2 separate regions of the Homo sapiens genome follow, and region 1 is linked to region 2. Evidence: fine-mapped expression QTL. A gene starts in region 2. The other region holds a variant in brackets. All regions are shown on one strand. Distances are from middle to middle.

Region 1 (2,916 bases), 40 kb before region 2:
TGCTCAAATATATAAAGGAAGGAGTAGACTGGATAATCAAAGCTCTCATCAAAATCAATCTCAGTATGTGCCCACAGAGTAACTCTCTCTCAATTTTTATAAACAAATAGAATAAGATATATTGATACTAAAGCATACTACAGCCAATTAAATTATCAGCCTATTCATCACACTATCAAATATTCCTAAGTTTATGGTAAGATTTCTTAATGAATACCAAATGGCCCAGTCCTATAATAAATATATAAAATCACCAATTAAGCATACCTTAAAAAGTGAGTAGTCACAGCCAGGCATTAAATTACTAGACAACTGGATATGGTTGTACAGACTAGGTAAAAGAAAATAACAATTAAAAACACAGAATATGTAATATAGAGTTTAGGTGCTTACATATATATACATTTAGAACATATGATGAAAATAAACAGATAAAAGTTCATGTTTACTTGTTTCTAAGGAGTCAATTTCTAAAATGGACAAAACAGATCTTAAAAGCAGTTAAATAATCAACTTCAGATGACAGGTATAATTTTCAAAAAAACTTCTAGTGACTGCTCTGACAAAAATATATTTTATGTTAGTTAACTCAGTGCATACATATGTATATATATAAGAAACTGAGAAGAGAGGTATAAGGTGGCTTTAAGTAGATGAAATAATTTCTGAAGTTAATACACAGTTTTTTTCACAAACATAAAAAAACAAAAACAAAAACAAAAACAAAAACCAGAAACGATGAACTTCCTGACCATCAGGATTGCATGACTGAAACAGTCATTATCCTTGAAGGTATCCAAGAGTAGAATAGATCAACGGTTCCCAAACACCACAAACTGTCACTGGTTAGTCAACATAATAATCATTTTAAAACTGATTTTAGAAAAATAAATAAATAAATATAGTTACAAGCCCTACATCTTGGGATTATAATCACCTAAATATAAGATGGAACCCTGCAGTCTGTATTTCTAAACTATTTCCCAAGTATCAAAATAACAGAATAACATTTGCGATGACTTAGTTGCTTGCCTGAAGGTAGGAGGCTTAGATCATTTGATCTCCTGTAGTCTTTTACAGCAAAATTGATTTAAAAATTGGCAACTCTTAAGAATCTTTTGCTTGTCTCCAATATTAGATGGCAGAAATAATGATCTTAGCTGTGTCTACAGACCATGGATGATTCTACTATCCTTAGTCTGGTTCTCCTGGTGCTATGTTAACCCCATCTAGGAATATTTCAGGTAAAGATTTAAGGGCCGGGTGCAGTGGCTCACGCCTGTAATCCCAGCACTTTGGGAGGCCGAGGCAGGTGGATCATGAGGTCAGGAGTTCGAGACCAGCCTGACCAACATGATGAAACCCTGTCTCTACTAAAAATACAAAAATTAGCCGGGCGTGGTGGCATGCGCCTGTAATCCCAGCTACTAGGGAGGCTGAGGCAGGAAAATCGCTTGAACCCAGGAGGCGGAGGTTGCAGTGAGCCGAGATCACCCCATTGCACTTCAGCCTGGTGACAGAGCTAGACTCCATCT[CA/C]AAAAAAAAAAAAAGATTTAAGAAAGAAGTTGGCATCTTTAAATCAAATTCCATAGTATAACACACAAATATAGTTTAGGTGAGACAACCTAAGACCACATAAGGTTTGCTGAGTCACTACCTAATGGTAACTCCCAACTACATCATCAATGACAGCCTCCACTAGGCAACAAAAAAAGACGGGATACTAAGTGACTATAAAATTAGCGCTACTAATGTCATAAAATGAATGGATATTGTGGGAATGACCTTCAATAAAATACTTTTTCCCTTTTGCTGCCTCCTTTCTCTTCTGTGGTGCTCAAAGGTCTCTCAAGTAAGTCCATCATGAGAATTTATAATGGCACATCTAAACAGAATCCTAAGACTATGCAGTCTGGATAAATACAAAAGGACTCAATGGTTATCTGCAATAAATTTGCTAGAAAAAAACAGAAATTAGGAAGTGGCCCACACATTTATAGAAAACTGAAAAATCCTTCATATCTCTAAGTTATGGTATAAAAACCTACTATGTAATGACATTGACTACATGTAACTGAAGCATGGAGAACTGTTCTAATTAGAAGGTAGAATTATGTAAACTGGTAAAAGCCAAACAAACTAGATAAATGCAAATCTGATTGGGGAAGGTGGCTCAAGGCTTCCTTTTTCTCTGTAGGAGAATGAAAAGCTTTTTTTTGGGGGGTGCAGAAGACTGGAGTTATTTAAGAGTCCTGAATAAACAAAACTAGAGAAGAAAAACTACTTGATGTTTTGATGATGGGCAAAGAATAATAATCCTAGTTTAACTAGAAAACTAGACCTATAAATTATTAGGCCTTAAATGTAGTTATTATTAAGTGTCAATGCTTTTAATAAAAAATAAATACTCTCAAAGTTTACTCTCAAATGAATGTTCTCAAATACTCTCAAAGTTTATGGTTTTAATCGTATGCTTTGCTTTTTTCAGCAACACAAATGAATACAAAATATCTATTAGAAGCCAAGCACTGGAAATATACAGAAAAATATTGTTTCTGCTGTTGAAGATGTACATACATATGTATAAATTTTATACCACAATCTATTTCTTTGTATGAGCAGAATATCTTGAGGGGGTTACATTAAAACATAAGAGTAGCATCACTAATTCAGCATGTATATGATCCTAAAAAAAGATGTACAAGTTAGAATATTTAGATAACTGCTAGGTAATTTAAAGTGCTTATTAAAGAGTTTTGCCTTTCATGGTCTCAAATAGTACCTCCCTAGTCATTCTCCAAGTAAATTAGACACACTGGATTAACTTTGTTTTTAAGAGAATCAATTATCAAAACTTCTTGAAATAGACTTTACAATTTTTATTTATTTTATAGAGAAACAGGGACTCATGTTGAC
Region 2 (2,916 bases):
AACCTACCCTGGGACCAGCTTGCTTCAGTTAAGTTTAAAATGGTGCCTAAATTGAAATGAAAGTCTGTAGCATAGATAAAGAGAAAAAAAAAGTCAAATGGAAAAGTAAATTTAAAAGTTTCTATTTCCAATAAACTGCGTCTCAGAAATCTTCCAGGAGATAAAGACTCGGAAGAACAGAGGGATTGAGACCCATTCGCATTCTCTGAGGCGTGCGCACTACGCGGAAAGGATGAATGAATGGAAGACGGGCGCGTGTGAAATGCAGCAGGTCCGGCCGGCAAGCCGACCGGCTACAGCGATCTGTAGGCCTCGCTCCTCCCCCTTCCCTCCTCCATGACAGCCCAGTCCCAAGCATGGAGGGGCGAGGACAATGTGATACCCCTTCTCACCACCACCATCCCTCATTCTACTTGGAGAGCTTCACCGTGACACACGAGTGTTCCTTCCCACCCCAGACCTTTCTCGCTTCCCCTGGCGCAAACACCGGCAACTCTCCGGCGCGCTGGATTAACAGACGCTCGCCCCTCTCAACTCCCCTAAGCGAGGTCGAAGCTCCTCCGCGCGTGCCGCGGCACCACTCCCGCCTAACCCACCCTCCGGCAACACTCGCCCACCAGCTCCCCAGTCCACCGGTCTAAGGAAGACGTGCGCGCGCCCCGCACCCGAGCCCCGGAGCTGGGGTTCTGCAGGGAGGGAAAGGCTGCTCCAGGGCTCCCTCCTCCATCTCACTCCAGGCCGGCTCGCCGCCCACCCTGCCTGCGGATCCCAGTACTCGCTGGGAGCCGGCCCTGCGCCTTCCTATCATGAAGACACCATCCTCGCATACCCAGCCCAGAACCCCAGCTACCCTCCACCCTGTAGACACCTCGCGGTTCCGCAGGAGGCGCCACGCCGCCCCTCCCCCACACCGCTCCCCCAGTTCTCGGGCCCCCACCAGAAAGTGTGCGCTACACGCCGCCTCGGCCATCCTCCGGGACGTCCCCACTTGTCCGCGGGAGGTCAGGTCCAACATGAAGGGGAAGGGGCGGCAAGGGGTACAGTGCGCGCCGGGAACGCCGTCCCGCGGAGTCCCCCAGTCAGAAGGAAGACGGAGCGCGGGGACCCGTGGGGGTGGGGGCCAAAGGCAATACTCACCGGTTCGACAGTCGCCATCTTAGATCGATCTGATCGCACAACCGCTCCAGAAGGGGGGGTAAGAGGAAAAAAATGAGATTCAAACCGGATTGGCCAGCTTCTGGCCACGTGACGGATATGTCCGTTTGGCCCTGGCGGCACCTGCGCAAGACTGCGGCTGCGTGAGTAACGAGAGGCTTCTGGGAAGTGGAGTCTCTCCCCCACCTTTTTTTTTTTTTTTTTTTTAAGGTAAAGAAATTTTTTTTAAAAAGGACTGGTCACGTGGCCGATGGGTAGGGTGCGCGGTTCTCAACGCGGCGGACACTCGCTTGCTGGAGGGTGGTTTCAGTCCTCTGCTCTTCCGCCTGGATAGCTGCGGTCACACTTACTGCCAGGCAAGCCTACTGTGCCCTTTGTCGCCCTGTCCTCCCATCTTCCCCGGAAGGTTGGGAACTGCAGGCTCAGCACACACAATAAGGCTTCATTTGCTTAGTTGAGGTCCCAGGACAAGTTGCCTGTGTGTTTATTTAGTTTTCTTTTGATCTCCCACCATTTTCTCTTAGTTTCAAAAAGAGGCGGCGATGCAGAGTCGTTTAGGCAATCAACCCTCCCACGTCCCCTGGCTCAGCTAATGCTGGTGGTCATTCGTTGCCATTTCTGCGAAAGGGGACGGACGGAACCGCCCGCAGTACCCGCTTGCCACCGGCTGGACGAGGGGGAGGGACGACAGCTTTTACTGTCCCAAATCCTGAGATTAAGACCTCAGGGCTAAATCTTGCGTGGCGGTAAAAATTATTTGGAAGTTCTGTGCAACCGTTCCAATATTCCGCTTTTACGTGCACGGAAATAGCCTAAGTCCAGATGCCAGCCAGGGAAGCCACTCCGGGCCCCGCTGACTAAGCCCTGGACTGATGGTCTGGAGTCTTTAGGCCGGGTCAACTATGACTCTTGACGTTGACTCATTCTCCTTAGGCGAGTGACTTAATCGCTCGGCGTCTCAGCTTTTTTATTTATGAACCAAAGGTGATGATACACTTACCTCACAAGGGTGTGCTTCGTAATGACTGTAACCGGCTTTGAAAATGCATCGGACTCTAGAAATGATTCATAATAAGCAACTGCGTGCCTTCCTAAAGATCAAGTGCTTCTGCTTTTTTTTTTTAGCAAAGTTTAAATTTTTTTCTGTTTACTTTGTTTGATTATGATGTACACCAGTGTAGTTTTAAATGTTCAGGACCATTTTTTTTCCTTTACAACTGCAGCTGCCCTCAATAGAGGCTTTAATGTTCATGAAATTATTGTTATGCTCACAACAATCACTGGCAATCAGAAATTTGTCCCCACACTGGCATCCTACATTTCCTTTCCCTCTAAGATACTGTGCTGTCATTTCTCAAGACCGTGTTTTTTGCACAGTTTGGCTACTAATAACAACAAATAGAGATGAAGAAATCTAGTAGACTCCTAAGGTTCTAATGAAGAAGACACTGTCTCATTACTATTTCCCATGCTTTTAAATAATGTTGACACCAGGAAAAGGAGTGTATGCAGGCTGCCTGTGCCTGTCTGCTTATAGTGTTAATGAGGTCCAGAGCTGTGTCATACCTATTATTGAGTACATAATGGATGCTTGAGTTGACTAACACATAATTGAGGCTGTATGAGAACTCAAAGCCATTGCCTGTTCATATGTTTTGGTTTACCTGAATATCAGAAGTGATTAATGAAAGCTTTTGTCTAGTGGGCTTAGCTCTACTAGGTTTTAAAGTAGATAGAATTAACAGGCCAGGCGCAGTGGCC

Alleles and levels. Alleles are on the strand shown, and positions count from the first base shown. SD is a standard deviation of normalised expression in the study named.
For the expression in rectum of the gene that starts at base 1,176 in region 2, CA is the high allele of the variant in region 1 and C is the other (moderate effect, 0.55 SD a copy in CEDAR).

What was found. PIP is the estimated chance that this variant, and not a neighbour inherited with it, causes the effect.
Region 1: its variant is the best candidate, but not a certain one, in a credible set for the expression of EIF4E in rectum (CEDAR, PIP 0.79).

The regions. Positions count from the first base shown.
Region 1 is chr4:98,887,622-98,890,537 of GRCh38, forward strand. EIF4E (eukaryotic translation initiation factor 4E) reads right to left here. Exons shown (of 7, transcript NM_001968.5): 4 at 268-331. Among named protein-coding and RNA genes, the nearest start is that of EIF4E, 40 kb to the right of the region's middle. The variant CA/C (reference allele first, on the strand shown) is at 1,536.
Region 2 is chr4:98,927,958-98,930,873 of GRCh38, forward strand. It overlaps EIF4E (eukaryotic translation initiation factor 4E), which reads right to left and starts at 1,176. Exons shown (of 7, transcript NM_001968.5): 1 at 1,138-1,176. The coding sequence starts at 1,155. RefSeq lists an enhancer at 1,570-2,769.